Linked DNA regions of Homo sapiens: region 1 is linked to region 2. The links come from fine-mapping of genetic effects on gene expression. Tissue or cell type: spinal cord. Region 2 holds a variant in brackets; the other region holds the start of a gene. All regions are shown on one strand. Distances are between the middles of the regions.

Region 1 (16,522 bases), 40 kb after region 2:
TAAAGAAACTGTGATATATATATAGATACAGAGATAGATAGATAGATAGATAGATAGATAGATAGATAGATAGATAGATCATATGATAGAATACAACGCAGCCATAAAAAGGAATGAATTAACAGTATTTAAAGTGACCTGAATGAGATTGGAGACTATCATTCTAAGTGAAGTAACTCAGGAATGGAAAAATCAAACATCGTATGTTCTCACTGATATGTGGGAGCTAAGCTATGAGGATGCAAAGGCATAAGAATGATACAATGGACTTTGGGGACTCAGGGGGAAGAGTGGGAGTGGGGGAGGGATTAAAAGAGTACAAATATTGTGCAGTGTATACTGTTCAGGTGATATGTGCACCAAAATCTCACGAATCACCACTAAAGAACTTACTCATGTAACCAAATACCACCTGCACCCAAATAACTTATGGAAAAATAAAAACAATAATAATAATAGAAGAGAAAAAATAATAAAATAAAAATTACATGAGAAAGCAACGTGTGCTGCTTTAAGTCTAGAGAGGCTGGGAGAAGAAAATTCGGTTCTCATCACCAAAAAGATGCACCATGCTGACATTCAATTTCTAATTACATCAACAAGTCTGGGGAACCTGCTTAAAAAACAAAGTTCTCAGGTTTTGCATAAACTTTCACAAGACTCCTATGTTCACATCTTAAAAGAGCCTACTTTGTAGGAATTGTGATTTAAGGAGAAGATGAGAGGGCATGGGGACCCTGATACCTTTTTACACTGTGGCAAAGGTGGGTAGGTGGGTGGGTGGATGGATGGATGGATGGATGGATGGATGGATGGATGGACATTTAAATGGGTGGTGGAAGAATGGGATGGATGGATGGATGGATGGATGGATGGATGGACGGACGGATGGATGGGGACACCCAGATGAACACTGCCATACATGGTACTTTCCTTTCTTTTTACCCTTTCATCCCAGAGGAGACAAGCTCTGTCATGGAAGCTCAAGCCTGAGCCTCAGGGCTGAATCTCATCTTCGTAACATCTGAGCACCAAGGGAAGACTGGGGTCTTACATCAGTGGCCTCACGAAGGTACCATACTTAGAAAACTCAGATCTTAAAAACCCACAAAAAAAATACTTCCAAGAAGTGTTTTGTCTGAACTCAAAGACAAGAATAATGAAATGCCTTTGCTACAACATCTCCACTCAATCCAAATCTACAAACAACAGTATTCAACCATGAAGTTCTCCCATCTCTTTGGCCAGTTACATTTTTATCTCAAGTAAATCATAGGAAATGCTTTTCGGTTCACCATGGCATGTCCATCAGGACTTAGGAAAGCCAATCCAGTGCATAGCAGAATAAAAGTAAAAAATATATAAGCATGTTGAAGCCCCAAATTTAGTCTGCTGGCATTCTTTTATCTCTATACACTAATTATTTGTCAGGATTTAAGCCAGCATTCCTAAAGTCCAGAGGCAGCAAATGACTTGACTGATTTTTGGAATAACTTTCCGTTCTATGGCCCTGTTTGTTTGTTTGTATTTGTTTTTTTGACATGGAGTCTCGCTCTGTTGCCCAGGCTCTATGGCCCTATTTATACTCTCATTCCCTACAACTACAAATTGATCACTGGATACTCTATCCTTCTTTAATGCCCCATCAGGTTATCTGTGACGGTCATTATTGATGTTTAGGCCAGTATATTCTGTTAAATGTGATGTGATGGCTAATTTTATGTGTTAACTTGGCTGGGTCACAGGGTGCCCAGACATTTGGTCAAACATTATTCTCAGTGTTTCTGTGAGGGTATTTTGGAAGAGACTGGCATATAAATTGGTAGACTTTGAGTAAAGCAGACTGCCCTCTATAATGCTGGTGGGCTTCATTAAATCAGCTGAAAGCCTGAACAGAACAAAAAGCCTGGACCCCCTCAAACAGGAAAGAATTTTCTAGCAGCCTGCCTTTGGACTTCATTGTAACATCAGCTCTTCCAGGCTGTATAGCAACTGCCTCCAAACTTGAAGTGGAGTGTTGGCTCTCCTGGGTTTCCAGCCTGCTGGCCCATCCGGCAAATTTTGGACTTGCCAGTCTCCATAATTGCGTGAACCAATTTCTTAGAATAAATCTCTTTCTACACATATGCACAGCCTATTGGTTCTGTTTGTCTAGAAAACTCTAACACAAATGGGTTCTCAGAAAACAGACCAGATGTACCTCTCTTATCATCTTTTTAACAGATATCCATGCGTACAGAGGAAGCGTCTCATGCAATGAAGAAGACCAGGTAAGGAGGAGTCCCACTGAAACACAAAAAGTGGCTCATAACCATGCCCAGGACTCTCCATCAGTCCTTATCCCATCTACATTGGAAGGGTTACTGTCTCCTCACCACTAGACTTTATTATTAGTGTCTCTCTATTTAAGCTAATTTGAAAGCAGCTTATCCATGATCAACAATGAGCAAATGCTTAGAATCCTACCACAAATGTTCCTACATCCCCATTCATAGTTCTGCTAATTCAATTTATAAAAAATAACCCACATTAACACATATAAATAATGCTATTAAAGAACATTGCAGGAAGACTGCATTTTTAAAAAAATTATAAAATCACCAGGCAGTGAGGAAAAAAAAAAAAAAAAAACAACAGGGAAGGACAAGCAATATGCTCAGTTACCCAGATTTGGCGACAGAACCAAAGCTAGGATTCAAATGTCTAATCTTCTAGAAGTACTCAAAGTGATATGCTTAAAGTTACCTAGATTTTGAGATAAAGCCAGAGATAGGATTCAAATGTCTAATGTTCTAGAAGTGCTATAACTCTATACACAGAGGTATATATCTGTTAATTTACCAACGAGCTGGACTCACATCCCTAACCTCAGCCAAGGTTGCCTTCCACATAGACACAAACCTGCCCCTACACCCATCCTGTCTCTCTGCTCCCTTTCACAACCAAGCTTTATGTGTATGGTCTGCACTTCCTCACCTCCATTCATCTTTCAACCCAGGCCAATCTCACTTTAGGTTCCACTTCTGCAACACACAACACACCTCCAAACGAGGCTTCTGCTTCCCATGCTTGTACCTCTTCAGTCTATTCTTCTATCTGTTCTTCACAGCCTTCCCAGGCAATCTTGTATAAATTTAAATTGGCTTGTGACACTCACCTTCTGCAAATCCATTTTTCACAGCCCTCAGAATAAACCATAAGACCTTGAACTTGACCTAAAGGGCACAGCTTGATCTGACCCCAGCCCTCTTCTTTTTAAATATATATATATATATATATATATATATATATATATTTTTTTTTTTTTAATTATACTTTAAGTTCTAGGGTACATGTGCACAACGTGCAGGTTTGTTACATATGTATACATGTGCCATGTTGGTGTGCTGCACCCACTAACTCGTTATTTACATTAGGTATATCTCCTAATGCTATCCCTCCCCCCTCCCCCCACCCCACAACAGGCCCTGGTGTGTGATGTTCCCCTTCCTGTGTCCAAGTGTTCTCATTGTTCAATTCCCACCTATGAGTGAGAACATGCAGTGTTTGGTTTTTTGTCCTTGCGATAGTTTGCTGAGAATGATGGTTTCCAGCTTCATCTATGTCCCTACAAAGGACATAAACTCATCCTTTTTTATGGCTGCATAGTATTCCACGGTGTATACGTGCCACATTTTCTTAATCCAGTCTATCATTGTTGGACATTTGGGTTGTTTCCAAGTCTTTGCTATTGTGAATAGTGCCGCAATAAACATACGTGTGCAGGTGTCTTTATAGCAGCATGATTTATAATCCTTTGGGTATATACCCAGTAATGGGATGACCCCAGCCCTCTTCTACAACCTCCTCCCAGCTGTTCCCACCCTTGTTCTCTTGAAGTTCCTGCATAGAACAAAAAGAGGCTCAATGCTCATTCCTGCCTTAGAATCCTCAGCCTGGAATTATCTTTCTCCCACTCTTCACTTAATGGACTCCTTTTATCACTCAAAATGAAATGTCTCTTCCTCAGAAAGGTCTTCTCTGACCCTCTCATCTAAACTAGTGCCTCCCTACCCTTGTTACTCTCTCCCATGAAGTCCTTTAGAGAACTTACCACTACTTAAATTTTGCATTGGTTTGTTTAATGCCTGTCTCCCTCCCACTTCTCACCCCACCCCACCCCACCCCAACCCCCCACCGTTTCCTTTACCACAGTATACCCAGCACCTAGCATAGTACATAACATCATGTAAGTACTCAAATACTTGTTGAATGAATGTATGCACGGATTTGAATATATAATGAGAATACATATATGTGACTATATAAGTTAATCATTATGTCACCTTTGGTGAGCATCTGGTAAGTCCTCGGATGGCTGATTAGTAGAATACTCAGCAAGATACTTCATTCATTTGGCACTTCACCAAACTCACTGAGGCTGGCTGCTGCCAACATTAACTGCTTAACTGTAACATTATTGGCTAAAAGCAGATCTTATGCCTTTATCGTTCAATACTTGTGCAACTGAAGACAATATTTATACAGTATCTCCTCAAAGCAAATCGTAGTGCAAGGCTGTGCAGGATTCCAAAGAGAATGAGACCTCTTGCCCACAAGAAAAATACCACAACCTAGCCTAGTAACTATTTTAGCTTATTAAAGAGTTTACTTTTATAATGTGTAGATTTTGATCCTCTTAACAACTGTGAAAAAAAAGTATAATGTGCAGATATGCTAAAAAGTTTCAAAAGATGATCTAGAGAAATGATAAAGAAAAACAGGGATGAAAATTCTAAATCAGTTTCTACATTTTGTTGTACATTTTAAGCCTTGTTATTATGTTCATGATAATTGAGTATTCACTCCAGGCTTCACAAAACAGCAGGCCCCTGAAACAATAAAACAACAACACTCTTCTCCTCTTTCTCCTCCTCCCCAGCTTGTACTTACTCCCCATCCCCTGCCTCCAATAAGCACCCACAGTAGTCAAGACCAGCAAGCAAAGGCCAGGTCCAGGATGAAATTCAAACTCAGTTCCCCACTCCCCAAGGACTCTCGATAGCTCACTCCCTCCTGTTCTGCTCTCTAGCTCCAGAGAGAAGTGAGGCAGAAAGATGCTGGACTTAAAGTCAGAAGACCCCTGACTGTGTCCAAGTTCAAGGCTCAGTTTGCCTTAATTTCTTCATCAGCAATATGGGCTTCCTAACTTCTGTCCCACCTATAGCTTATAACTCTCAGTTGCTCTGAGGACTGGAATGAGATATCCCATGTGAAAGTTCCTACAAACCACAATAGGTTATACAAATGTGACCGAGTCATTGTGATTTTTATCAGGACTTAAACATTTAGCATCTTGTATTGTTCTATCTTGTCTCACTGATCTGGAGTCTCCAGATCCACTATAAGTTCAAGCTCAGAGACCATGTCATAGATTCTGCCTACCTTCATTGCCTGTAGTACTGGGCACTTAGCACCCATACAATAAGCACTTGTGAATTGGTCACTGGTTGATTTACTTGACAAATTTGCGTCGGAGTACAAAGTGTTCTGTGGTTTTTCTGAATTTCTTATATTGATAAACACATTTTCTGAAACTCACCATAATGTTTCCCTGGCCCATGATCTTTATGGTTTATCTTCCTTTTTTCCTAACCAGCTGGGCAGAATTTCACCGAAAAGCAGACCATTTTGTCAAAGGCAAAAATAATATTTTGCTAACGCAGTCTTTGAGATTCCTTTTAAGGCTGAGACATGGGACCCAAAAGTCACTTGGTAACTGTAAGCCCCCTCTGTCACTGTTCAACAAATGTAGTCCGAGATCCCACTAAGCACAGGGAACAGTGTTGGAACTGTAGGAATAAATGAGGAAAACTGAATCTCACAGTGGCTCTGCAGTCAGACTGCAAGGGATAGAATCCTAGCTTCACCTTTTCCGGGCTGGGTGACCTTGTACAAGTTACTCAGTTTGTCTCTCTTTCCTCCTGTAAAATACGGTGATAATAGAACCTACCATCCTAAGATTGTCATCAGGATGAAGTGAGTTCATACATGTAAAAGCTTTTAGCTTTTAGTGCCTAGTACAGCGTAACAACAAATATTAGAGATCTAGGTCAGTGCAGCTAAACAGACCAAGACCCAGATTAGCAAAATGACATGTCAAGTCAAGGAGCCATAAAGAAATAGATATCACAGCTGGAAACTGGGTCCCCACATCCTATTCTCTTCTCTATGATGTTTCTTTGTGGGTATTTCACACAGGTGGCACTCTGGAAGATGCACTTTCCTGACACCTGATAAGCAGAGTCAATAAACACACCCACCTTCTCTGCTTCAACATACCCTGCAGAGTCGTCCTTCCTCCTAGTGAGACCTCAGGCCCACCATTTCCCACTGGCCTCCCATCTGACTCAACATGCACCTGGGGGGTTCCATCTACTGCTGGCTCCCACAGCAATACTGCAGTGAAGAAAGCAAGCATCACATCCTCATGCAGTTGTTATGGGAATTAAATGAGATAATGCCTGGAAAAGTGCCTAGCAGAGTATCTGATATATAGTATGCAGCTAATAAATGTTATCTATTAAAAAATAGAAGGAAAAGGAGGAGGAAAACCCTGTGGTGCCTACTCTCTCAAAGCTGACACACATTCCAATGGCAAATGCCAGACACAGGGCAGATTGAGATGGGTGGTAGAACAGAGGGATGCACGTCTGTGAAGAATTACAGTGAAGGGCAAAACCCACTGAAGACAGGAGGGAGCTGCAGTTCCCACTCTCCCCCTTCCTTCTTAAAAGAAGATGATGATACTCAGTTGGTGCTTTGCTGGCAAACTCAAGCTCCAGAGCTTTGGATTTTTAATATTATAATATTTCAGAACAGAACAAAGACTGCTTCTGACCTCCCAATTTGCCCTCATACACTTGACCAGCAAAACCTTAGCGTAGCTGCATTCATCAATGGCTCTATTCAGGCAATTATGGGTCAGACAAAAGATTCAATTAATACTGATCCCGCAAGTCTCCTTAGTATATTCACAACATGCTTTGGATTCAGAGTTCTATGGCACCTTCATATGACCTTCTCCGGATCCCAATATTGACAATTCCTAGTTCAGAAACGACAAACATAATATTAGAACAAGAGAAGAAGGGAAGCTGGTGAGAAAGAAAGAACAGACTAGACTGGGTGCAGAAATTATATCATCCATTTGCTGTCTGTCCCCGAGTGCATCCTGGGGCCTGGCCCATGGCGGGCTGGTTGGAAATGCATACTGAACGAGTCAATCTCCTCAAGAAGGTCACCACCCAGGTAAGAAGTGGAGCCTGCACATTACACCAAGTTCAGCTAGAGAATCAAAGCCACCTCTTCGGCTCCAGATATGCAGGGAAGACAAAGCACGAGGGCATATGCCTTCAGCTAAGAGATAGGTGCGTGCTTCCTGTTTACCTGGGCAGGTATTTGCAAATAGTCTAAGAAGGGGGGCAACTAGGAGTGACTTACACAGTTCCAAGTGAATGGTTACGCAAATCGCTTGAGTAAATACAGGGAAAGAAACAGGAAAGGCTTCTGAACTGTTTGTACTCATCTGCTCCAGTATTTTCAGAGGGTAGGGTGAAAGACAAAAAACCCGAACGAAGGCTCCGGGCCAACCACAAAGCTACTCTCCGGCAGGAACGTAAGGAACACCTACCGCCCCTCCCCCCACTTCACGCCTTGGCACCAAACCAGGGCCCCTGGGTCATTTTGGCAGGTGGAGGTAGCTCTTTGCTGTCCTCTGCCCCTGCTGCGGGCCACCCGAGTGAAGCTTTCGGCTCGGTCTCCCCAGACAAAACCGGGGGGAGACATCAAGAATGCAAAAGGTGCTCCTTTCTCCAAATGAACGAGAAGGGACAGAGCGGGGTTGGGGGTGCAGGACAAGCCCTGCAATGCGAAAGGCGCCCAGCCAGGCTCGCCGCGGCCCCTGCCGGCAAGACTGGCTCGCTTGCTAGCCAAGGTGCCTCAGGAGGTCGGGCAGCCACCCAGAAAGGCGCGAAAAAAAAAAGAGGAGTTCCTGACCCCGGGGTGACCCTTCCCCACCACTGCCACTGATCCAAACGCAGAGTCCGCAAGTGACTCCACACCTGCGCTGCAAGCCTCACGCCGTCCCCACCCAGGGCGCAGCGCTGCACGAGAGCAAGGGCCCTGGGTTCGCTCTTCCCTGCAACTGTCGCGGGGCGCCTAGCACAGCTGCAGGGCAAAGGGGAGGGGAGGAATGACAAAGAAGGCGGAGCAGACGGCCCGGGAAGCATTTACAAGCGCCAGGAAAGCGCCTCCTCTCGAGGAAGGGAAGGAACGGCTTCCCGGCCAAGGAAACGCCCCGGGGATGCCCCTACGCGAGGTGCCGCCTTTCTTCGGCTCATCGATTCTCCCGCCTCCAGGTGGTCCTCCCCCTGACCATAGCCCACCCCACTCCCCGAAAGCTGATCCTAAATACCTTCCCCGAGGCTTTCAAATCAACCCAGCCACCGCTTCAACAGCCCGCAGTTCACGCAACAGGCGGAGCCTTAGGGCTCCAGCGACGGCGGGCTCTGGGGACCAGAGGATGCGGGCGCCGCGGGCCAGACGCCCAGAAGGACGGAAAGTGCTCTGCGGCCGTAGACCCTCGGGGTCGTGCACCCGCGACCTGGACCACAGGAGACTGGGGCAGCAAAAGGTGGGGGAAGGCGCGGTAAAGTTGCAGGGTCGCCCGGAGAAGTCTCCGGAGCGCGCAGGGAGGTGGGGACGCCAGCCAGGTACCTGCAGGAGTCCGGACGCATCCAGCTAGCTCCGCTCTGCGACGCCGCCTGCCCGCGCTGCAGGGATCAGGCCTCGCGGCGCGGCCCCGCGCCTGCCGCCGCGGCGGCGAGGAGAGCGGGGTGGCCCGCGTCGGCCGGTCTGTCCGTCGGTCCCGCCCCGCTAGAGCGAGGCTCCCGGGAGCTGCGGGCGGGGCGGGGCCGGACGGGACGGGGCGGGGCCCGCCGCTCGGCCGCCGCCCCATTGGTCGCAGCTCCGCCAGCCCCTCGCTTCGGGCCCGCAGCCGGGCGCCCCGGGCCGAGGGCGCGGGCGGCTGAGGACTGCGGGGCTCCGACCGCCAGACAGGCGGACAGACCCATAGACCTAGATGCTGCCCTGCCGGCCGCGCGCCCCCGCCCAGGCCCAAGTGCAGAGTCACCCCGGAGCGGCAGGCGCTGTCCGGGTGGGACCAGGAGCGCGCCCCGCGCCTCCCACCTGCGCGCCCTCCTGGGCCGGAAGCGCCGTGGCCCTGCGGGAAAAAGATGACCTCCCCCGCGGCCCCGGCGGCTGGGGCAACCGCCTTTCTAAAGTCGCGGCCCAAGCGACACTTTGCTAATTTGCCTGGATTTCCTCAGGAAATCGCGAGGCCCAAACTTGTTTTAAAACAAAGTGCGAAGGAGAGTACATATAGCTCCAGTTCCTGCCAATGTTTGCCATCGGTCCCGCTGCCTGAAGACTCAGGCACAGTGCAGAACAAGATGCTTTGTCTTATTCCTCCACTCACCGAGTCAGAAGAGGTGCTTGGACATTTGCACCAAGCAGATGCGCCTCATATGTAGAAGAGGAACCAGTCGGGTCCCCTTTCGGAAGGACGAATGGAAGAGGAAGTCAGGGGACGATGCCTTCAGCCGACGTTGAGGAACAAACCAGGACCTCGGCGAGGACAGCGTGTGGTCCAGAAGGCATCGCTGGCCTCGCTGCACTGAGCGAGAGCGCTCAGTTAACAGCCAGGAGGAGAAATGGGACGCTTCGGGACCCACCCCCGCGCTCCCCCTCCCGCCCCCAAACTGCAGATTTTTAAGTTGTGCAGACGTGGAACAATTCCTCGGAGCCAGCTGCTCCAAGCTAAGGCGCCCAGTGTTCCCTGGGTTCCTACCCGCAGCATACGCCCTGCCAGCTGCCCCCAAGCCAGCACCCGCTGACCACTCACCTCAGGCAAGCACCTAGGAAGACGATGCAGATTCAAGCTCCAGACCTTGAGCCAAGCGCTGGGGAGGGAATGGGGGCAAAGAGATGGTGGAAAACACTTTCCTGAACTTACTGAATACCCTATGTTATGTGTGGGTTTTCTAATTGTTCTTTGCTTAATGAAAAACCCACGTTGGAAATCAGAAAAAGGCAGTAATCCTCACCGTATCTTGTGGGCTTCAAAGAGGAGGTTTTCCCCTTAAAGGGAGTTTTGGTCCAGAGGAGAGGCTAACAGCAGGCAGGAAGGGCAGAGGAAAAGATAAAGCCTAGGGTGGTCTTCCCCCTGAGGCCTGGAGCCCACCAAGCTCCAACAGTTTCATTTGGCTTCTGGGAAGCAAAGTACAGATGCATGTGTCTGCAGAGCACTGTTCTGAGCCATTTGTCCCTAATTCCATGGTTCTTTGGTTCCTCCAATCTTGTCTCCTCTCCTGTGGAAGAGGATCCAAAGCATTGGTCCACACTGCTATTTACAAGTGGCTGAAGAAGGTAACTTTCTTACATAGTTCATCTTTAGCATAAGCTCTAAGATTGTTCTAAAAATATATTTACATTTTATCAACACCTTAGAAGAATGCTTCCAGATCTCTCCCAGCAGTTACCTATTTAATCATTTTAAAATCACTAAGTTTATCCAAAAAGTCCAGCATGGTTTACTTGAGAAGGAAATATGTTCAGAATCTCTAAGCACTGCAGAAGGCACCTGCAGTGCAGAAGAGTTGGCAGTGAGGTCTTTCTCCTGGGGTCTGGGCGGAACATGTGAGCAGTCGGGAAGGCACACACAGTGGGAGCCAGTAAGGGCCCCTGTGCATCTGCAGGAGCTGAGGACAGAAGGGGTGGGCCTCCACGGTGGGCATGTAGGAGTGGGCACAGAGAAGGGCCACAGATCTGAGACAGAGACAGACAGGACTTCTTACCCTGCTGAGCCCTGCAGGGAGCCACTTCGTCTTTCAGCCCTGATTTTGTCATCTGTAAGGAAATTTCCTCTCTCCCAGGGTAATCATGTGAAGCCAATGAAATAATAAAAAGGACCACATCGGATGACCCCTGAGGCAGGTCTGCTCCCCAAAAGTTTACTCTTGAATGTTGACCAAGGTTGAGCTAGGCAAAGTGGTAAATTCACACACACGGTATGTAGCCCCTTCCCCAACCCCAGTCTCCATTACCGGGGGCATGCTGTGAACTAACTGCCTCCTTTTCCCCACACACCCACTTCCTGCCCAGTCTTTATGCCTCCCGATATGACATCCCGTTCCCTCTTAATTAACTGTGCCTATAGAGAAACATCTAGATAAACCATGCATTTAATCTGTGAGGGGTCAATCATTTAATCATCGTTGACAATAATGCTCACTCCTCTGTGGTTTCAGAGGACTCCTGGAGTGGATGGAGACACATGCCACTAATGTGGGATGCATTTCAGTCTGTCTTCCAGGCCTCGTTTGGAGGTCTCCCTCTCTTACCCACCTATCACACATCCATGTCTTCCCTTCCCTCCCCAGAGCCAAACCTGTCCCCGACTTTTTATTCTCACTAAAGTTCAAATGACAGAAATCAGCTAGATTAGTACTTGCCTTAGTCCTGAAGGAAAGGGAAGTGCTCATTAGCTTCTTAAATTGGAACAGGTCTGCAGGTGAAAATGAAGATGTGCTCATCTCTGGCAGGAAGGTTGGGAGTGAGGGGTATAGTCATAATGAGCAGCGTTTATTTGGTGTGTGCCTCTCACTTGCCACTTTCTACCCAGCTGCCTGAATATCACTCCAGTTAGTCTGAGCACATGAAACACCTGCAACTCCCCAGACCCACCATGCTTTTTCTTGACTCTCTGAATGCACAGCAGTGCCTCCTCAGCTAAGAACACAGTTCCCCATCACCAAGCTTTGCTTTGCCCAACAGACCCCTTCTCCCTTAGGATGAGATTCAGTGGATAATCACATCATAATCACGACCCTCTGGGAAGCCGCCTCTCTCATCCTGGGTTGTGTGTTGTGTGTTTCCTTTCCACACTCCCTCAGCAGCCTTTGCCTCCCACTTTCATAGAATCTACCATATGGGATTTTAACTGTTTGTCTTCCACTAGACAATAAGCTCCTTGAAGACTGAATTTCCAGGAACTTCTGTTGGATCTGCATGTTTGTGAAGTGAATTACTGAAGGCTGCCCAGTTTCATCTGATCCTAGTCAAAACCTAAATCCCTTATTTCTACGCTACCTTTTGCCAGGTAAAAATAAAACATGTAAACCATCATATCGCTGTCTTTGCTTGGCTGCCAGGAAGCTCAGAACTAAATTTACATTAAATTAAATTTAGTTCTCAATCAGCTAGAATGTTTTTATTTCAGATTATTGCTACAATGATCATGCTCTTTTCACAAAATTATTGTATGCTTACTCTAACTGCCCTGTGGTATTATTTTTATATCAAAAGTTTCTTAAGGCCGGGTGCAGTGGCTCACATCTGTAATCCTAGCACTTTGGAAGGCCAAGGCGGGTAGATTGCTTGAGTCCAGGAGTTCAAGACCAGCCTTGGCAATATGGCAAAACCCTGCCTATATAACAAATACAAAAATTATCCAGGCATGGTGGTGCATGCCTGTAGTCCCAGCTAGTTGGGAGGCTGAGGCAGGAGGATTATTTGAACCTGGGATGTGGAGGTTGCAGTGAGCAGAGATGGTGCCATTGCCCTCCAGCCTGGGTGACAGAGAGAGACCCTGTCTAAAAAAAAAAGAAAAAGAAAAGAAAAAGAAAAATTCCTTAAATCTTTATGATCTTCAAGTACAAAGACTTGAATTCTGATTCAGCTCTGTCCCTGATTACCTCAGTGATATTTCCTCTTGGGCCCTACATTTGGGTTGGGACTATATCATCTTTAAGGCCCTTGCCAGGTCTAAAAGCTTTATGTTTCTATAGATAAAAGGAGACACTTTATAAATTATTAAAGAAAGAAAAAACCCTGTGACAGGCTATGTCTCCAGGCACAAAGGAATGCTGTCCTCAGGTACTCAGAATCACCCTCTGAAGGCCCTTGAGTATTGCCCAAGGTGAGTGCCACAGAACACCTGTGCCTGACCCTAGGCACGGAAAGGAAGGTGTTTACTCCATCACACTGGCAGGTCCTCATAACACTCTAGTATAGGAAAGGCTCTGTCTGAGAAGTTAGCCCATGAAAATATTTCCAGGGATGGCCTTCCAGATTGCTCATACTCTGGTCACAACTTGATTTTTTACCACATTTCAAGCTCTTCACACCTTTCTCTCTGCCTTACTCATTCATCACCACCTCCCCTCCCCTCTCCTCTGCACTTTCCTCACATTCCAGCCCGACAGAAGTGGCCCATCTCTCCTCTATGCTCACTGCATGCCATCTGAGTCTTGCCTTTCTGGTGCCTCGTTCCTATAGTGTTTCCTTCTCCACCGGAAAATGCCTGCTTAATCTCCAGGATCCAGTATATGTCACCCATTCTCTGAGGCTTTCTCTGACTCGCAAAGCAAATTTAGTTGCTTGCTCTACTGGGTCCCATTATACTTTGTACAAAGCTCCGATTACAGTTAGACTCCTGTACTATCATTCATTGTCTATATGGATGGATTAAACTGTGAGTTCCTTGAGGGCAGGAACTAAGTGGTGTTGTTCATCTCAATATCTTAAGAGCACATTATAGATGCTCAACAAATACTTTAAGAATGAAAAGTGGCCAGGTGTGCTGGTTCATGCCTGTAATCCCAGCACTTTGGGAGGCCAAGGTGGGTGGATCACTTGAGGTCAGGAGTTCGAGACTAGCCTGGCCAACATGGTGAAACCCCATCTTTCTAAAAATACAAAAATTAGCCAGGCATGGTGGCGGGTGCCTATAGTCCCAGCTACTCGGGGGCCTGAGGCCTGAGAATCGCTTGAACCTTGGAGGCGGAGGTTGCAGTGAGCCAAGATTGCACCACTGCACTCCAGCCTGAGTGACAGAGTAACACTCTATCTCAAAAAAAAAAAAATGAATGAAAAGGGAGATGATTGGATGCCTGCATAGATAACTGGATGGATGGATGAACAAAGACAACAGGGGAAGGTATAGGAAAGCAAACCAAGAGGGAGCAAAGACCAGATATGTCATCCTCATGGTTGTTCCTCTGGGGGCATTTCGCACCTCTTTAGTAGCCCTTCATTTGTGGGGTGGAACTTAAGGCACAGCCTTCATTTCCAACTAGACAAATGAAGAGTATCCCCATGACAAAGAATCCTGGGCATACCCTCATGATCATTTCTGCTTTCTCAGTAATAATATCTCCAAGTATTACTGGGTACTAGAGTGACCAGCTCTTCCCAGTTTGTCTGAAACTGCCCCAGTTTTAAAATTCAAAGTCCAGCATTTCAGGAACCACTACATTCCAGGGCAAACCAGGACAGTTGGCCATCCTCCTAGCGATATTGCTGCCTAGGATAAAATCTACACATCCTAGCAGTGAGAGGACAGCATGTACCTGACTTATTTCCTATGGGACGTCAGTGGAAGTGGCACATTCAGCTTCTGGGCAGTGTCCTCACAGGAAGAGGGGAGTGCCCTTCCCCTTCCCTCTTTTGCCTTCATGCTCTCTGGAGCACAGAGAAGATCACTGGATCTGGATAGACATTTGAACCCACAGGTACAAGCCACATAATAAGGATGGTCAGATGAGTAGCTAGAAGGGGCCTAGGTCCTCTTAACAGCACTGGACTGCCCTCATTTATATGAAAGAAAGAAACTAGCATCTCATTTCAGCTGTTGTTATTTGTGGTTTCTGTCACTCACATCCATCTTCAAGGGTAGAGTTTCTGCCTGCTGAAAAGTGGGGATTCGGATGTCGCCCTCACACCTGGGTGCTGGCATCTGAAGATCCCTCTTTTTCATGTTCCCCAGTCCCTTGTATTATGAAAATACCCTATGTTGAAGGCGAGAGTAGCCCACACCTTCTGGCCCAGGTACCAGGTCCTAGTCTGTGTGTCTGGTGAGGTGACAATGGCAGTCAGTTCACTCCCTCCCACCTCCCATGTGCAGGCCACTGAGAGCTCCCAACTCTAAGCCAGAGGAGGTTCTGATAAGTGCTAGGCACAGCTGAAGTTTTATTCTAAAGCATGAGCAAACTGGGGGATTGTGTCAGAAGTATTCAACCTGTTGATGAGTTTCAGTGTGTTACAGTTTTGGCATAGCACTCTTGAGTCTTCATGATGGTTTTCATTAGTTCTTATAAGTTAAAATATTTATAAATGAGATTCAAATAAAATGTTTAAGGAATCCCACGAAGAATGGAAAGAAAGGAAGAAAGGAGGGAGGAAGGGAGAGAGAGAGAGACAGAAAGAGAGGAGTAGGCAAGAGAGGGAAGGAGGGAGAGAGGGAGAGAGAGGAAGGGAGGGAGGGAGGGAAGGAAGGAAGGAAGGAAGGAAGGAAGGAAGGAAGGAAAAGAAAGAAAGAAAGAAAGAAAGAAAGAAAGAAAGAAAGAAAGAAAGAAAGAAAGAAAGACCCTATGTTACCAGAATCAAGGCTGCTAGGACAGAGCCTTCCTTCAGCCCTGTGGGAAATAACTGGCAAACTCACTACCCGGCTCTTAGTGATATAAAGAGGAATGACAGGTCTAGTGTGACCCAGGGTTGGGGAAGGGAAGGAAATAGGAGTGTCCATCATCGTGAGACAAAGGGTTCTCTAAGTGCTCAAGTGGAAACCCATCACCCCACAACACAGGCACCCAGGTTCTCCCATGTGTTCCAGAAAGCCTGTGTTAAACTAAATATCATACACAAGAGGGCCACACGTGGCATCACTAGGCTGCATCTGTGAGGAAGTTGCCCCCTATCCTCTGAAAGAAAAGGGGCCTGGAGTCAGCTGTAACCACCCTGAATGTGCTCCTCAAGTGGAGGTGGGAGACGAGGTCAGGGCCTGAGGCCCGCCTGGGGCAAGGAAGGGAGCCCAAGGCCAGGCATCCAGGCACAGGCTCAGCCAGGAGCCTGGGGACTAGAATACTCATTCTTAGGGTTTAAAAAAAGAAAATGTGTGTTTAGACACTATTTTTCTGAATGTCTTTCTGTTCTACATATTTTGTCTTGTTTCATTTTCCATTAAAATTTCTTTTGAAAAAAAATCACCATTTCTTTTCACAATAATGAGAAGGAAATTCTTCCATTTCAAAATATGGTGGTGAGAAGGGTTCAAAAAGTCTTTCTGGATGAGCACAGTGGGCAGTGAACGCCCCACTCTCTGTAAGCAGTAACTCACAGGTCATTTCATCTTGAATGCACCTCACTCTTCCTCTTTATGAACAGCTGGAAATATTGAGGAGTGTTGGTCAGCTGCACTGACTTATTCATCTTTCTTTCCTTCTTTTATTTCCCTTGGATGCAGAGGGTTAACTTGACCATACTCTTCAGTTACGGCATATTGTCATCATTAGCATGTACAAGGCCTCTCTCCTGGTTTGTTTGTTAGTTTGTTTGTTCGTTTTGCTTATTCCCTCTTCCACACTTGCATGGCCAACCCACTATCCATAGGCAGCCATTTTTTTTTTTTTTTCCGTAGACGGAG
Region 2 (16,820 bases):
TCAAGGTTGTTGGCCTACAACTTGGCTATATACATTTTAGGGAGACACAAGAAATCAATCAATATATGTAAAATGTACATTGGTTCTGTCCAGAAAGCCCAGAAAACTGGCAGCTGAGGTGGGGGGCTTCCAGGCCATAGGCAGATTCAAAGATTTTCTGATTGGCAATTGGTTGAAAGAGTTAAGTTATTATTGTCTGATATGGTTGGGCTTTGTATCTCCACCCAAATCTCATCTCCAATTGTGATGCCCAAGTGTCAAGAAAGAGAACTGGTGGGAGGTGATTGGATCATGGGGGTGGTTTCCCCATGCTGTTCTTGTAATAGTGAATGAGTTCTCACAAGATTTGATGGTTTTATTAGGGGCTCTTCCCCCTTTGCTCATCTCTCATCTGCCACCATGTAAGACATGCCTGTTCCCCTTCTATCAGGATTGTAAGTTTCCTGAGGCTTCCTCAGCTCTGCAGAACTGTGAGTCAATTAAACATATTTTCTTTATAAATTACACAGTCTTGTGTATGTCTTTATAGCAGTATGGAAATTGACTAATACTATAAATTGGCACCACAGAGAGTGGGGTACTGCTATAAAGATACCCCAAAATGTGGAAGCAACTTTGGAACTGGGTAACAGGCAGAGGCTGGAACAGTTTGGAGGATTCCAAAGAAGACAGGAAGATGTGGAAAAGTTTGGAACTTCCCAGAGACTTGTTGAGTGGTTTTGGCCAAAATGCTGGTAGTGATATGGACAATGAGCCCAGGCTGAAGTGGTCTCAGATGGAGATGAAAAACTGATTGGGACCTGGAACAAACACTCATTCTTGCTATGCTTTAGCAAAGAGACTGGTGGCATTTTCCCCCTGCTGTAGAGATCTGTAGAACTTTGAACTTGAGAGAGATGATTTAGGGTATCTGGTGGAAGAAATTTCTAAGCAACAAAGTGTCCAAGATGTGACCTAGGTGCTCTTAAAAGCATTCTGTTTTATGCATTCACAAAAGATCGTTTGAAATTGGAATTTTTGTTTAAAAGGGAAGCAGAGCATAAAGGTTTGGGAAATTTGGAGCCCGATGATGTGATAGAAAAGAAAAACCCATTTTCTGAGGAGAAATTCAAGCTGGCTGCAGAAATTTGCATAAGTAACCAGGAGCTGAATGTTAACTGCCAAGACAATGGGGAAAATTTCTCCAGGGCATATCAGAGGTCTTGGCAGCAGCCCCTTTCACCACAGGCCTAGAAGCCTGGAGGAAAAAAGTTTTTATGGGCTAGGCCTAGGGCCCCGCTGCTCTGTGCAGCCTTGCAACATGGCACCCAGCATCCCAGACATTTCAGCTCCAGTCATGGCTATAAGGGGCCATGGTACAGCTTGGGCCATGGCTTCAGATGGCGCAAGCCCCAATCCTTGATGACTTCCATGTGGTCTTGGGCCTGCAAGTGGACAGAAGAACTGAGGTTTGGGAACCTCTACCTAGATTTCAGAGGATGTATGGAAATGCCTGGAAGTCCAGGCAGAAGTTTGCTACAGGGGCAGAGCCCTCATGGAGAACCTCTGCTAGGGCAGTGCAGAAAGGAAATGTGGGGTTAGAATCCCACGCAGAGTCCCCATTGGGGCACTGCCAAGTGGAGCTGTGAGAAGAGACACCCACTGTCCTCCTGACCCCAGAATGGTAGATCCACTGACAGCTTGCACTGAGCACCTGGAAAAGCCACAGACACTCAACACCAGTCCATGAAAGCAGCTGGGAGGAGGGCTGTACCTTGCAAAGCCATAGGGGTGGAGCTGCCCAAGACCATGGGAGCCCACTTCTTGCATCACTGTGACCTGGATGTGAGGCATGGAGTAAAAGGAGATCATTTAGGAGCTTTAAGACTTAATGGCTCCCCTGATGGGTTTCAGACTTGCCCCTTTGGGGCCAATTTGTTTGGGGGCCAAAACAATCCTTTGCTTTGGCCTATTTCTCCCATTTGGAATGGAAGCATTTATCCAATGCCTGTACCCCCATTGTATCTTGGTAGTAACTAATTTGCTTTTGATTTTAGAGGCTCCTAGGTAGAAGGGACTTGCCTTGTCTCGGATGAAACTTTGGACTTGGACTTTTGAATTAATGTTGAAATGAGTTAAGACTTTGGGTGACTGTTGGGAAGGCATGATTGGTTTTAAAACATGAGGACATGAGATTTGGGAGGGGCCAGAGGTAGAATGATATGGTCTGGCTTTGTGTCCCCACCCAAATCTCATGTTGAATTGTAATCCCCACGTGTCAAGGGAGCGACCTGGTAAGAGGTAACTGGATCATGGGGGCAGTTTCCCCCACGCTGTTCTCATGATAGTGAGTGAGTTCTCACAAGGTCTGATGGTTGATAAAAAGCTCTTTTCCCTTCTCTCGCCACTCTCTCTTGCCTGCCACCATGTAAGACGTGCCTCTTCCCCTTCCACCATGATTGTAAGTTTCCTGAGACCCCCTAGCCCTGCGGAACTGTGAGTCAATTAAATCTCTTTTCTTTCTAAATTACCCAGTCGGGTATGTCTTTATAGCAGCGTGAAAACAGATTAATACATTGTCTAAAGACTTAGAATCAATAGGAATGTCTGGGTTAAGATAAGCAGTTGTGAAGACCAAGGTTTTATCATGCAGATGAAGCCTCCAGATAGCAACTTCAGAGAGAATAGACAGTAAATGTTTCTTATCAGAATTAAAGAGACTGCACTATCAGTCCTAAGGTTCATGTTGATGTTGACGCTGGTAAGCTTTTCCTGAATTCCAAAAAAGAGGAGGGTATAATGAAGCATGTCTTACCTCTCCTTCTCATCATGGTCTGAACTCATTTTTCAGGTTAATTTGGGAATGACGTTGGCCTAGAGGAGGGGTCCATTCAGATAGTCAAGAGGGCTTAGAATTTTATTTTTAGTTTACACTAGAAAGAGATGATCTACACAAACTAACTCAAGAAGAAAAAGGAAATCTGAATAAACCTATTTATTAACAAGTAAAGATACAGAATTTGCAATTTTAAAAATTTTCATATGGAAAGCTCATGTACAGATAGCTTTGCTGGTGAATTTTACCACAATCACCACCAATCTTCCACAAACCCTCCCAAAAATTAGAAGAGAAAGGCATACTTCCCAGCTCCTTCTATGAAGCTAGTATTCTCCTAATACCAAAACTAGAAAAAGACATCACAAGAAAACTACAGGGAGCATCCCTTATGAATACAGATGAATAAATCCTCAACAAAACATCAGCAAACCAAATCCAGCAACATATAAAAAGAATTATATTACCATGAGTAGTGGGATTTATCTCAGGAATTTAAGGTTAACTTAACGTGTAAATCAATCAAGGTAATATAAATACTAAAGAAATAATGAAAATGACATTATCATCTCAAAAGATGCAGAAAAAGCATTTGAAAAATCTAGCACTCTTTCATGATTAAAAACAAAAACTCAAAAACTAAGAATAGAACAGAATTTCTCCAATTTGATAAAGAGCATCTATGAAAAACCCACAGCTAAAAACATATTTAATGAAAAAAGACTAAAAGCATTTCTCTTAAGATCAGGAACAAAACATGAATGTCCAATCCCACCACTTTTATTCAACATTGTACTGGAAGTTCTAGTCAGGGAAATTAGGCAAAGAAAAGAAAGAAAATGCATCCAGACTGAAAAGGAAAAGTTAACCTACTTCTATTTGCAGATGACATGATCTTGTATATAGAAAATCCTATGGAATAGATATACAAAAAAATTAGAACTAATAAATAAGTTCAGCAATTTTGCAGGATACTAGATTGATATACAAAAAAACTGTATCTCTATATACTAGCAATAATACAAATATGAAATTAAGAAAACAATTATATTTTCAATAGCATCCAGAAAAATAAAATATTTAGAAATAAATTTAACAAAAGTGGCATAAACCTGTAAAATGAAAACTACACAATGTTGTTGAAAAAATTATGGAAGAAATAAATGAATAGAAAGACACCCAATGTTCACGGATTGAAAGATTTATTATTGTTAAATGGCAATACCCTCCAAATTAATTCATAGATTAAATACAATTCCTATAAAAATCCTAGCTGCCTTTTTTCAGAAATTGACAAATTGATTCCAAAATTCTAAAACTTCAGAAATTGACAAATTGATTCTTGACACACTTGTCAAAAATCAATCAATAAACTGAAAAATAAGCCCATATGGGCTTTTTGATTGATTTTTGACAAGTGTGTCAAGACAATTCAACAGGGGTAAGAAGAGTCTTTTCGATAAATAGTATTGGAACAGCTGGATAGCCACATGCAAAAAAATCTAAATTGGATATGTATCCCACACTATATACAAAAATTAACTTTAAATACATCAAAGGCCTGAATGTAGGTGTTAAAATTATAAAACTCTTAGAAAAAAAATTAACATAAATTTTCATGACCTTGAGTTAGGGAATGGCTTCTTAGCTATAACACTAAAATTACAGAAAAATAAAGAAAAAATAGTTAAATTGACTTTATCAAAATGTAAAATGCACTTCAAAGGACACTATCAATTCAAAGGACAAGTATCAAGAAAATGAAGACAACTCACAAAATAGAAGAAAATATTTGCAAATCATATATCTGATAAGGATATAGTATCCAGAATAAAGAACTCTTACAACTCAATAATAAAAAGACAAATAAACTCCTTTAAAATGGGCAAATAATTTTGATAGACATTTCTATGAAAACATATAAATGGCCAAAAGGTACTTGAAAAGATGCTCAACATCATTAGACATTAGGAAAATGCAAATCAAAATTACAATGAGACACCACTTCATACCAGTATGATGGCTATAGTCAAAAAGTAATAATAATGCAAATGTTGTATTATGATACATCAGGTGTTGGCAGGGATGTGGAGAAAGTGGAACCCTTGTGTGTCATTGTAAGCAATGTAAAATAGTACAGCCACTTGAGAAAGCAGTTTAAGCCCATTCCTCAAAAAGTTAAACAGGTTTACCATATGACCCAGCAATTCCATTCCTAGGTATAGTCCCAAGAGAACTGAAAACATATGTTCAAACAAAAACTGTATGTAATGTTCGTAGCAGCATTATTCATAATAGCGAAAAAGGGGAGATAATCTAAATGTCCATCAAGGAATGAAGTTCTGACAGACTACAACCTGGATCAACTTTGAAAACTTATGCTAATGAAAAAGGTCTACTTAAAAAAAGACAATAAAAGATCATATATTGTATTATTCCATTTATATGAAATATCCATAATAGTCAAAACTATAGAAACAGAAAGTAGATTAGTGGTTGCTGGGGGCTGGGGGGAGGGGAGATGGGTACTATTAATGGATTTGGGTTTCCTTTGAGGATGATAAATATGTCTTGGAATTAGAAAGTTGTACAGTCATGAATATACCAAGAACCACTGCATTAAACCCATTTTTAAAAAGGTAGATTTTGCTGTATTCAAAGCATATCTCAATAATACTGTCATTTAAAAAGGGATTCCATCCCAGCACTTTGGGTGGCCAAGGCAGGAGGATCACTTGAGCCCAGGAGTTTGAGACCAGCCTTGACAACACAGTGAGACTCTATTTCTATTTATCATTTTTTAAAATTATAATAAAAATAAGTGAATAAATAGGGATTCCAGCTAATAAGTAAAAAAAGAAATAATAGAACTCAAATCTCATAATAAAATAATAGATCTAGGCAATGATAATCAATGGCTGATAAAATCCGGATAAAAAGCTGATGGGGAATTTCATAACAGAGATCAGAGTTACAATATTTGAACCCACTAATCAAGCCTAATATAATAAAATAACTAGATTTTACTGAACAAAATAAATATTTTAGAGGAATATGGTCAATAACACCACAGGGGTGCAATCAGCAAAATCAAGACTGGGAAACCATACAGGACAAATGACACAGATCAAATAAGAGGCATATCAAACAAAGCCAGTGTACAGACTTTGTACAGATCCTGATTCTAACCAGCCAAATGCTTAATATATGTATATGTATTTATATATATATATATATATATATATATATATATATATATATATACACACACACACACATATATATGAAAATCAGGGACATTTGAAAACTGATATGGTCTGGCTCTGTGTCCCCACCCAAATCTCACGTCAAATTGTAATCCCCAAGTGTCAGGGGAGGGGCCTGGTGGGAGGTGATTGAATCATGGGGGCAGACTTCCCCTTGCTTTTTTCATGATTGTTAGTGAGCTCTCACAAGATCTGGTTGTTTGAAAATGTGTAGCATCTCCCACTTCACTCTCTCTCGCTCTCCTGCTTCACTATGGTAAGATGTGCTTGCTTCCCCTTTGCCTTCTGCCATGATTTTAAGTTTCCTGAGGCTTTCCCAGCCATGCGGAACTCTTAATCAATTAAACCTCTTTCCCTTATAAATTATTCAGTCTCACGTAGTTCTTTATAGCAATGTGAGAATGAACTAGTACAAAAACCAACTAGATACTTGATATTATAAAAAAAATCATTGTTAATTTTTCAGTGTCCCAATAGTAATATAATTATGTTCTTAAAAGAAAACCCTTATCTTTTGGAAATACATACTAAAATATTTATTGATAAAATTACACAACATTGGGGATTGATTTCATAATAATACATGGAAAGGCAGGAGCTCTGATCATACAAGATGGCTATGAGTTAATCACTGTTGCAGCGGGTCATGGATAGGCACAAAAGAGTTTAATGTATTATTTTATTTTTGTACATGTTAAAATTCTCCATTAAAAATGTTTTAAGAAAAATGTGCTAAGCATCTTTTTTCAGGCTATGCACTGTGGTAAGTGCTTTCATATACACTATTATTCACTCTTTTATTCTCAACAACTGGTGCAGTACATAGGCACTAGCAGGCAATGAGTACATGTAACTGAATGAATGAATCATTGTCTTTAATTCTCTAACAGCCCTAAGTCATAGACCTTAGACTCCCGTGTTGCAAATGGGGACATCTGAGGCTCAGAATTTGCCCAACGTTGTCCACCTTTTATGCGGCAGACTCTTTCCACAATGCCTCAAATATGAGTATTTAAAGTTTATTTTTTTAAGTGGGAGGAGGTAGAGACTGGCTGATGTTCTCATTTGCATATTATGTCAGCCATACTGTAAGGAGATTGACATTCACATGCTGAAGACACATGGGGTCTAAAATCAGGCACATCTGAGGGTACAGTGGCATTGGCCACAAAGTAGAAGACCCAACTGCTATTTTCATTCTCTTCTTAAAGCTAAACTTAGCTTCACTGTATTGATTCTCCTCCCTACTATCAACCCACATCACTCATGGTGAGAACACTATATATACAGTATTTGACCACCTTGTCCCTCTTGGTGTTTATAAGATTGAAAAGAAGAAGAATATGTCAAAAATCCAAGAAACTCCCTGGCAGCGTAAAATGAAAACTACCATTGATTCAGTTGTCTCCAACTGGCACCCTGTAAAGCTTTTTCAAAGCCATTAACCTTTTATTCGCCTCCTCTTGGTCCACTTCCTGCTCTTGTTGCTTCATGCTCTCAAACTCACCTAAGAAAATATTCTCAAAATTGTGTCTTTTCAAGGCTGACTCATACACATATACACAAGCTCATGGCTGTCTCTGATAATGCACCTGCTTTGCTCAGAAAAGTAATGAAAGTATTATAATACAAGCCAATTTGTCTTACTGGACAGAACTGCTTTTTGGTATCAATTTCATAAAAGTAAATAAAAACCCAGATTTGTTTTTCCTTCTTGTTTTGTAGATGTCCAAAAATCTACATTAATCCTTTTTCATCAAAGAAAAAAATACACCATTTTCAGCATTTAACACTGCCTTCTTTTTGGAACATTCTTCTAAGAGTTTTCTTTTATTCTATTAAATTTAAAAAGAAAGCTCATTTTGATTTTTTTAAAGAGTAGGTCATGCTAAATTCAATTTCTGGTCATGCCATGTGGGGATATACAAAATGGAAAAACCAAGCAAACGTAAACAGAATTGGAAACCTAAACTCAATCCATACCCATGTCTCCTCCTTACCAACCTCCTACCAGGTGCCTCCCTGGTAAGAGTCTTCTCTTACAGCATTGTCTGAGCATGGCGAGGATCCTACATGGAGCCAACACCTCCAGTAGCTTTCCAAGTGGTGCAGCCCAGTCCACTGAGGAAGGCTTGCTGTAAAGCGTGAATCCCACCGGCCAAACAGTCAGGCAAGAAAACTCCCTGCCAGGTCTGTTCTGCGCTGGACATGTTCTGACAGCATGGGCCACAGTTGGACAACACATGAATGACACAGGTCCATACAATTTGCAGGGTCCCAGGGTGCTCTATTCCAGAGCATTCATAAACTGAATGCAACGTTTCAATGTTGAACTTAACAAAACAAAAACAGCATGTCCTCTTATTCATGCTGAATTATCAGCATCAACTAGCAAAAAAGAGGGAAAGACTAGGATTCTGAAAACTTGTGTCTGAGCTGCCTCTTCTTATCTGCATGACCTTGGGCAGGTGAAGTCTTCATCTATAGAAGGAGTTTATAAACCCACCTTGAGGATAAAATAACAAATGTAAAAGTCTTTTGAAAACATAAAGCACAAGCCACATGTAAAACTGTGTTCCAAAAATAAAAGACTGATATAATGGTATTTCTACCTTCCCCCACTTCCTTCCCCTATTCCCTTCCCTTCTCTTACTCCCACCAACTAGTACAATCACATTAAAGTTGTACTCACTCCCTCTGGATCTGTATTTAGTGTGACTGCTACTCTCTGGAAACTCCAGGGATCTCTGTAATTCACACAGCTCATCTCCAAGCAGAGAGCTGCTCAGAAGGCTGAGTGATTTAGTGAGCCAAACAACCAGAAAGCTGTCCTCTTTGTAAAAAGCAAAGAATCGTAGATGATAGCTTTTCAAACAGAAACAGGAAAAACCTGGACTTTACCACAAGAGGGGCCCCTAGCCCTGCTGTAAATACTCCATCACATCTCCAGCTGAGCCAGGTTGCTTGGAATCAAGCACATACAGAGGTCTGTCATGGGAAAGCTCTGCTGCCCAGGGGAGGGAGTTTTGGAGAATTTGGGCCCAGGCCAAATTAATGGTTCTCTCTTCTCTACCCTCTCCCATAGCCCATTTGTGTACACCTTGATTTTAGCACATATCACAAGGCATTATGATGTTATCTACAATTCTCCTTATTCCCCACAAGTCTGATTGTTGCTCACTCTAGACTCCAAGCTTCGCTGTGGAAGGGACCATGTATTATCCTCTTACAGCTATAGCCCCTTATGCTAAGTGCTGCCCA[C/T]AATCTAGTAAAAGATACTTGCTTTTATCTGGAGGAATTAACAAAGGCTATTACTACTTTTGTCAAAGAGCTAGCAGAATGATCTAGAACAGGCATGGCAAAATTAAATACCTCCGGTGACCAAACAAGTCAAACAAATGAGATGGTTGGGGATGGTGGTGAACTGTCCCCACTTGTCTAAGAGGCAGAGGCTACTCAGCACTAGAATCCTTTTTAGGAACAGAGGCCCAGTATAGACATATCATTCCGTCTTCCCAGGAGAACCTGGAAACCCTGATCCTTATGTGGAATATCTCAAGTTTAGTTAGAATTGATCCAACATGTTTGAAGCATGATGTGGCTCAAACAAAGATGTGCCTCTGGCCCAGGTACATCTGATGAGCTACCCAGTCTGTGACCTGAGCCAGACTCTGACCAATTCCAGTCCACAACACACATTTTAAGCCAGACTGGCTAACATGAACACAAATGGAACCTAGTTACAATAACAGTAGTGTCATTCTCTCAAGTCTGAACTATAAATGTCAAAAAAGGGAGAGGGAGAAAATGTGAACCACAGCATTTTCTAAAGTTGGCCAGTGGTGTCCCTTAATATAACTCCAATCTAATCCTTTGAGACCAACACTTTTCTTCCCATAGTCATCTGTCCCAACTGCCCAGTGGATTTGACCATCAGAAGTGTCTAACTTTCATCTTTCTCACTACACTGTAACGCTCATTCTCATCCTCCTTTGATAAATAATGGGTGCTTGAGAAAATAAGATAGAATGGCAACTCTTACCCTTGAGGTGGAGATGCCACACGCTCTGCCTTCATCCTGCCCGGTGGGACGTCCATCATCATCCAAGAAGCTCTGCCCTTCTCAGCACACTGGAATGTGTGGTGCACATAGGCATTTGGTGGCCAAAAAGAAGGGAAGAATCCTGTTCTCTGGTTGTACAGGCCAAAGCAATCACTGGAAAATCACTCTCACCTGCAGAAAAAACCATCAGCCAAGCTGTAACTGCAAGGAAGAAATACACCCAAGACATTCTACCTCAGGATCAACACTCTGGGCACTTTGCTGATGAGACTCAAATCTGAAAGCCCCACCTAATTCTCAGCAAGTGGGGGGTGGTCTCTTCCCCCTGTGGAACCATCACTGCCATTGGACATGTGCTAGGTTTAAGGATCCTCAGAACTCAACAGTAGTGAAAGTCTTAGGATTCCTCTACTGACAGAGGCCACTAAAACATCTAAAGATAAAACCAGGCACTAGAATTAGGGCTGCAGTTACCTACTCCCACATGGTTTCTTATAGAAGTGTTATTCTCCCAGCTAATTCATCGAGATATACTTGTAAGCTTCTAAATGAACGCATTCTAATCCATTTCAAAATCTACCTTCTGGGTATTACTGCTATAATAGAATTAACACTGCTGCTCTAATTTGAAATCAATAGATTTCAAAGGCTGGCCAAATTCAATTTTGCTTTATTTGCCCATTATTATATTTCACAGATCAGAAATGACACAGGTGCAATCACAGTTTATGTGTGTGGTTATGTATATGAAGTGTGTGTTGGGGGGATGTTTTAAGTTTCTGTCACAACAAATAAAAAGCCAAATTTCAGTTTCTCTCTCTGAATAAATTTTAAAAGGCAAAAAAAATCCAGTTTCCACCCAGGTAAGCCTTGCCTCATGCTGATGCATTCCCATACATTGGTACTAGCTTCTAAGCATCCATCCATTGATTTTCATGTTTTTCAATCCACACCAGGTCCAAAAGGGGGAGGGAAAAAAAAGAAGAAGAAGAAAATATTGATTCTGATAAAAAAAAAAAAAAGTGCCTCTGGCTAGGCCAGTGATTAAACAAACATTCACTGTGGTTTATGATCTGCTGGGCATTATCTTAGGCACTGGGATTATAAACCAGATGCAGTGCCTGCCCCCAGTCCCTCAAGAGCTCTCAGGCCCAAAACCAAATAAACAAGTGAATAGCATCCTAACAACATCAAGGGGCAATGGAGGGGGAATGAAGCAGGAACACAGTTTCCAAGTTGTCCCAGCAACAGCAGAGCAATCCTTCAGCACATCTGGACTTTGCAGAGGGGTAAATTCCCACCTCCAACAGAGATTATACTGAAGAAAGATCCAGAAGCCAAATGCAGCTCCACCCAAACTGAACTTATAAGATGGAACACTTAGCAGAGGAGGTAGAGAAATCTCAACAGGGTAAGTAAAATCAATTCAGGTGCTAAACTCCTCCTCCTTCCTCCTCCATGCTTTCCTCCTCCTCCCCTTCCTCCTCCTCCTTCTTTCTCCCTCTTCCTCCTTCATGGCCTCTCAGTGGCATGTCCTTGGGTCAGCCTCAGTTCTCTGCATTCCAATGAAACACAGAACTGCTGCTGCACCTTGGTAAAAGGATATAGCACACACATAGTTTTCCTTTCCCTATCAGATGCCTTTCCAACTGTAGCACACTTTAAGGGAAGGTAGGATTAATCTGGCTGAGAGGTAATTAATAAATCACTATATTAATTACTAAAGAAAAAATAACCAAATATTTAGGCTATGCAGCATTTCTAAGTATCCCCAAGCACCGCCTAAAGTTCATTGCACTGGCTTACCACAGAAAGGTCAGGGCTGGTCCACAGACAGACTGAGAGGTTAGCCAAGTGTATCCTTTTTATAGCACTGGTATGTAATGGGCCTTTAGTCTATGTCTAATGAATAAATGACATCCCAGGCTGTCCCTTTCTCTCTCCCTCCCCACAAAACTCAGAATTCCTGTGCCTTGCCCCATTTTCCATCACCATGATTCCTATCCAAAAAAACTGGATTTTCAGACAAGATGTAATACCAGACAATATCTCTTGTTATGAATTTATGTAAATTAGCACCTCTCTAAGAGCATTCACATTCTAAGTGTGACTTCTCAACATAAAATTATAACTAGCATCTTCTGAGACCCACAAGAAGCTAAGCACCTTTTTAGGATTTTTACACACATCTCCTCTGCCCTCAGCCATTATAAGTGGTATTATCCCCATTTTATATGGGGGACATTGAGGCTCAGAGAAGTGATTTGTCCAAAGTCCTACACCTAAGGTGCACCACAGCCAGGAGTTAAACTCAGGTAGATCTGCCTGAGTTCAATTAGTGTGGAAAATCAAGATCCCTCTTAGTTGTTGGGGAAGGTCAAGCAGGGATTGGGGGGAGTGAGCAGAACATGACCCAAGCCAGTAGGCTTTGGGGAAGAAAAATGTGTCCATTCAACATATCCTCCCATTCTCCCATTCCTGCCTAACAATCCCATCCAGCGTTTCCATTTCTCTATGTTCCTACCAGCCCGATCAGTGTTGGCCTGTTCAAAAGAAGAGAGCATTGTTTGTGACTTAGCACTTAACAGGTTTCTGACTTTGCTGAGTGATTCAGCCCGATCCTGGAAAACACATCAAGCTCACTCAAATATTGCCACCCTCTGCAGAATTCCCTCCTTTCTTCACAAAACTCTCTGCATCATCCTTTTACTTCCCTCCAGGCTGGCTGCATTTCCTGGTGGGTTGACTACAGCATTCAAAAGTGAACAAATGACTGCCTCCATTATTGAGAGGGAAAAGGTAATGACTAAGTGGCATATTGGACTCTTTCATCTTCCAGACTCCTGACACCCAATCTTGGAACAGAACCCAAGGAAAAGCAAATGGACAGCAGACAGTCCACATGAGTGAGAATGACTCCCTGCACCATTCTCCCAGGTCTCAGAATCATAGGAGTAAGGTTGCCCTCCAAAAACTACAAAATCAGTGCCTGATAGATCAAAGCAGACACTCCAAGTGACAGTGCACCGTAGGTCTGTGTCCTCTGTGCTTGCACAGAATCCTGTGTGGCCCCATCACTGTCCTGCCCACAATCTTCTGAAATGTTGTCACATCAGTGCCACCCTCTAGACTGAGAAAGCCTCCAGTTAGGGACAGTGTCCTAATATCAATCTTCATATTAATTATCGCTGTCACAGGGTAGTGCATGACACATTTTTTGAACCAATTCCTCTTCCCTGAGCCAACAAGACTAAAGAGTAAATTAATGAAAAGAATAAATGTGGATAATGAAAGGCAGCTGGTAAGTAGTAGCAGCAGAGAAGGAAAGTGTGAAAGACTGAGGCTGGTTCCCACGACCAATCCCAGCAGTGGTGAAAACAGAAGAGTCTTAACCTGAAGACTCAGCATGTCCAACCCAAATGGTGGGACATCTCAAGAGTGGGGTTTTGAATGTCAAGACCTCGGAGTTTCAGGTATCTGTATAATCCCCAAAGACTTCCCTTTGTTCTGACTCCAGGCTCCCTGAGGTGCCTCCTGCTGATCTGGGTTCCCACACACCTTGCTATGAGGAGCAAACGAGCTATGCGGCCAACACAAGTGTCTACTCTGTCTGCTAGTTCTGTCTATGACTGTAATGGAACTTAGTAAGACAGGAAGAGGTGTATTTATGCAATTTCCTGTGAGTTTCAATGCAAGTCAACCTCCTACAGTTTGATCAGCTCTGGGACACCTGAGGTGAAATTCTGTAGTTGCAAGGCTAAGAGATAGCTGACTCCGACCCAACCTGTGATAATCTTACCTGGGAAATGGGACCTGTGAGTACCCTCCTGGCAGCAGCTAGCTTATCTGGAGATATCCTAACCTTGAAAACTTCTACGGCAAGATGTCTCAGCCTCGGCACTATTGACATTGTGGGGTCAGGTAATTCTTTCTTGTGGAGGCTGTCCCATTCACAGTAGAGTGTTTAGCAGCACCCCTAGCCTTCATCTACTAGATGCCACTTGTACACCACCCACCCATCACAATACTGTGACAACCAAAAATGTCTCCAGATACTGCCAATATCCCTTGGAGATCAAAATCATCCCCACTTAAGAACCAATGCTCTATAAGTACAGGAAAAGAACCTCAGGCACCTGTTTGGGAGCTGGAAGGTCAGAAGACTGGGAATGACAAATTGTACTAATACTTCATCTGCTGACAGGGGCTGGGGATACCCTCCCAACACTTGTTCTTTTAGAATTCAGTCATGGCATTTACAGTGTCATACAACCAAAACTTTAAAAATGAAGAAAGATAAAAGCAAGTTTAACCTTTTGTGGAAACTCAAACCATGCTTCATGCAATTTGAGTCTAAAGGTTAGTGAGTCTGTCTTAAGTTTTCTAACATTTTAGTGCCAGAATGATATACTGTGCATATGCACTAATCTAGTTTCAGATCTATAGCCTGCTGCAGCTTTCTGCAGGTAGGCTATTCAGCCTGCTGAATACGCCCACTCCTGACCGAAGTTCCAACCTTGTGGAGACTAATTGGTGTCCCTGGAAAAAATGCAAATTCATGTCAGTTTTGTAGTCTTGCTACCATACATCAACGACAGACCTACTTTTAATAAAATCTGAGAGCAATAAAATTATATGAATAATAACAAAAGGTGAAATCCAACCCTACCTCTATCTGGCTTAACTATTGAAAACTGTCACCCAGTGTTTAATTAAATAAAATTAAAATATCATAATCATACTGCCATAATTGGATTTAGTGTGCTAGAAAAAAAATGTACTGATATTTAAATCCTATAATCCAAAGCAATCAGAATCAAACATCTTCCAGTTGATTCAGACAGGGCATGACTAAGAATATCCCTCCACTACTAACTCTGTCCAAATTTAACTGTCAAATTTCAAGAAGTACCTTAAGTTAATATGGCAAATCCTTGAATTAACATGATTTTTAAAAATCTGTCCCTAAAAGAAAATGAAAACTTCTCAGGGTCTAATATATTCAGGGACAAACCAGTAAGTGCTTTCTAAAGCAAAGTCTCTAAATTATTTTTGAAAGGTTAGTATAAATTATATTTTTCTTGGTCATTCAGAGTGAGTAAATGCCATACCAACTGCAGGAATCCCAAGACTTGATGCATGGGTAACTAAATACCACCTTCCTTTCCTCCTGCTCTATGTTTCTAGACAACCTCCCCCTGGGGAATGGAGGGGAGGCAGCAGGGACGCAGCTGTGTTGCCTTGGCAAGAAAATCTAGAGAAAGGAAAGGAGAGACAGGCAGACCAGGCGCTTCCCTGCGGAAGGGTGTGCACCTCATAGAAGGAAGTACAACACAGTCACTGAGTGTTGACAGGGCTCTAGGGTCACTCTGAGTGGTCCATGCAACTGCTCCTGGCCACAGAAAGGAACTGCACTGGCTCCATCCACCTTGTAGTCATCTCCCTACCGCATGGCTAGCTGGAGACAGAGGCTAGGGCTGTCCCATTTGAATGCATCAAACAACTGCACTAACACAGGCCGATAAAGAGGAACTGAAAGCAAGCAGCTTTGGAGTGAGCAGGAAAGTATCATACAATGATAGCAGTGAAAACTTCTTAAAGAAACCTTTCTGGAGGACATCATAGCAATGTGTATCACAAAATCCCAGGGTTTCACATTTTGGCATGTGTCCTGAAGAAATAAATCAGACAAGCGTTGAAAGATGCATGTACAAGGTTGTTCACTGCATCATTATTTGTAAGAGTGAAATGTCAAAGACAGCCTGCACGTCCATCAATAGAGGAATGATTAAATAGACTGGGGGTAGCCATGCAATGAATACTCTGTAGCCATTAAAAATGCTGAAATAATAAAAGTTACAGAAGTTACAGCTTCCTTATACTAAGTCTGGCCCTGTGCTTTTTACATGTCTAAATCCATTTAATCCTTGCAGCACTCAGACAAGTGGTGTTTTTATTGCATTCGTTTTGCAGATGGAGAAACTGGTAAATAGAGAAGTTAACTGATTTTAGGGAGTCAACAGCTATTAAGTGACAACTCCATGATTCGAATCCAAACAATAATTCTTCAAAGCCATTCTCTTAGCTACTACAGCTCTACTGCATGTAAAACCATTAAAAAGTCACAATATGCTAAGTACAAAAGAGAAATAATTATGACGCAATATATAGCATGATCCTATCTTTGTAAAATATGTCTTTTTAGAGTAAATGAGAATATATACCAAAATGTTAAATTCATTGTCTCTGGATAATGGAATTTGGAGTGATTTTGCTTTCTACTCTCTACATCTCAACATTGTGTACATTTCTTACTTTAAATAAATAGGTATTATAAAATATTTATGAAAATAGTTATTTCTACATAGAAAAATAAAAGGTCATAAGCAGCTCCAGTCAGCATCTGGGCAGAGGAAAAGGGGAATGAGATAGATATCAAATGAACTTATAGATTCACATGAGAAAGGATCCCCAGCCCCCAGCCAAAGCCCTCCACTATCCTGAGCTAATGCTATTCATTCATGGCTGCTTTATGACAGGCAGTATCCTGGGAACTACCAAGGACAAAAGATAACATGGATCTTGCCCTCAAAGCTTACAGGAGCTGAGAAGAACAAAAAGGAGGGTAAATGGGTAAATAAATAACGGCAATACAAGGTCCAGTAGTATGTCAGGC

Evidence for each region.
Region 1: KCNS3 starts here. The variant in region 2 is fine-mapped to the expression of KCNS3 in spinal cord (GTEx, PIP 0.98).

Annotation. Positions count from the first base shown.
Region 1 is chr2:17,871,042-17,887,563 of GRCh38, reverse strand. KCNS3 (potassium voltage-gated channel modifier subfamily S member 3) reads right to left here and starts at 8,897. Exons shown (of 3, transcript NM_002252.5): 1 at 8,758-8,897. It overlaps LOC124907737 (a long non-coding RNA gene), which reads left to right and starts at 11,002. Exons shown (of 2, transcript XR_007086226.1): 1 at 11,002-12,199. RefSeq lists silencers at 8,777-8,826, 8,917-9,116, 9,127-9,286.
Region 2 is chr2:17,911,175-17,927,994 of GRCh38, reverse strand. KCNS3 (potassium voltage-gated channel modifier subfamily S member 3) reads right to left here. Exons shown (of 3, transcript NM_002252.5): 2 at 10,124-10,315. Among named protein-coding and RNA genes, the nearest start is that of KCNS3, 41 kb to the right of the region's middle. The variant C/T (reference allele first, on the strand shown) is at 9,343.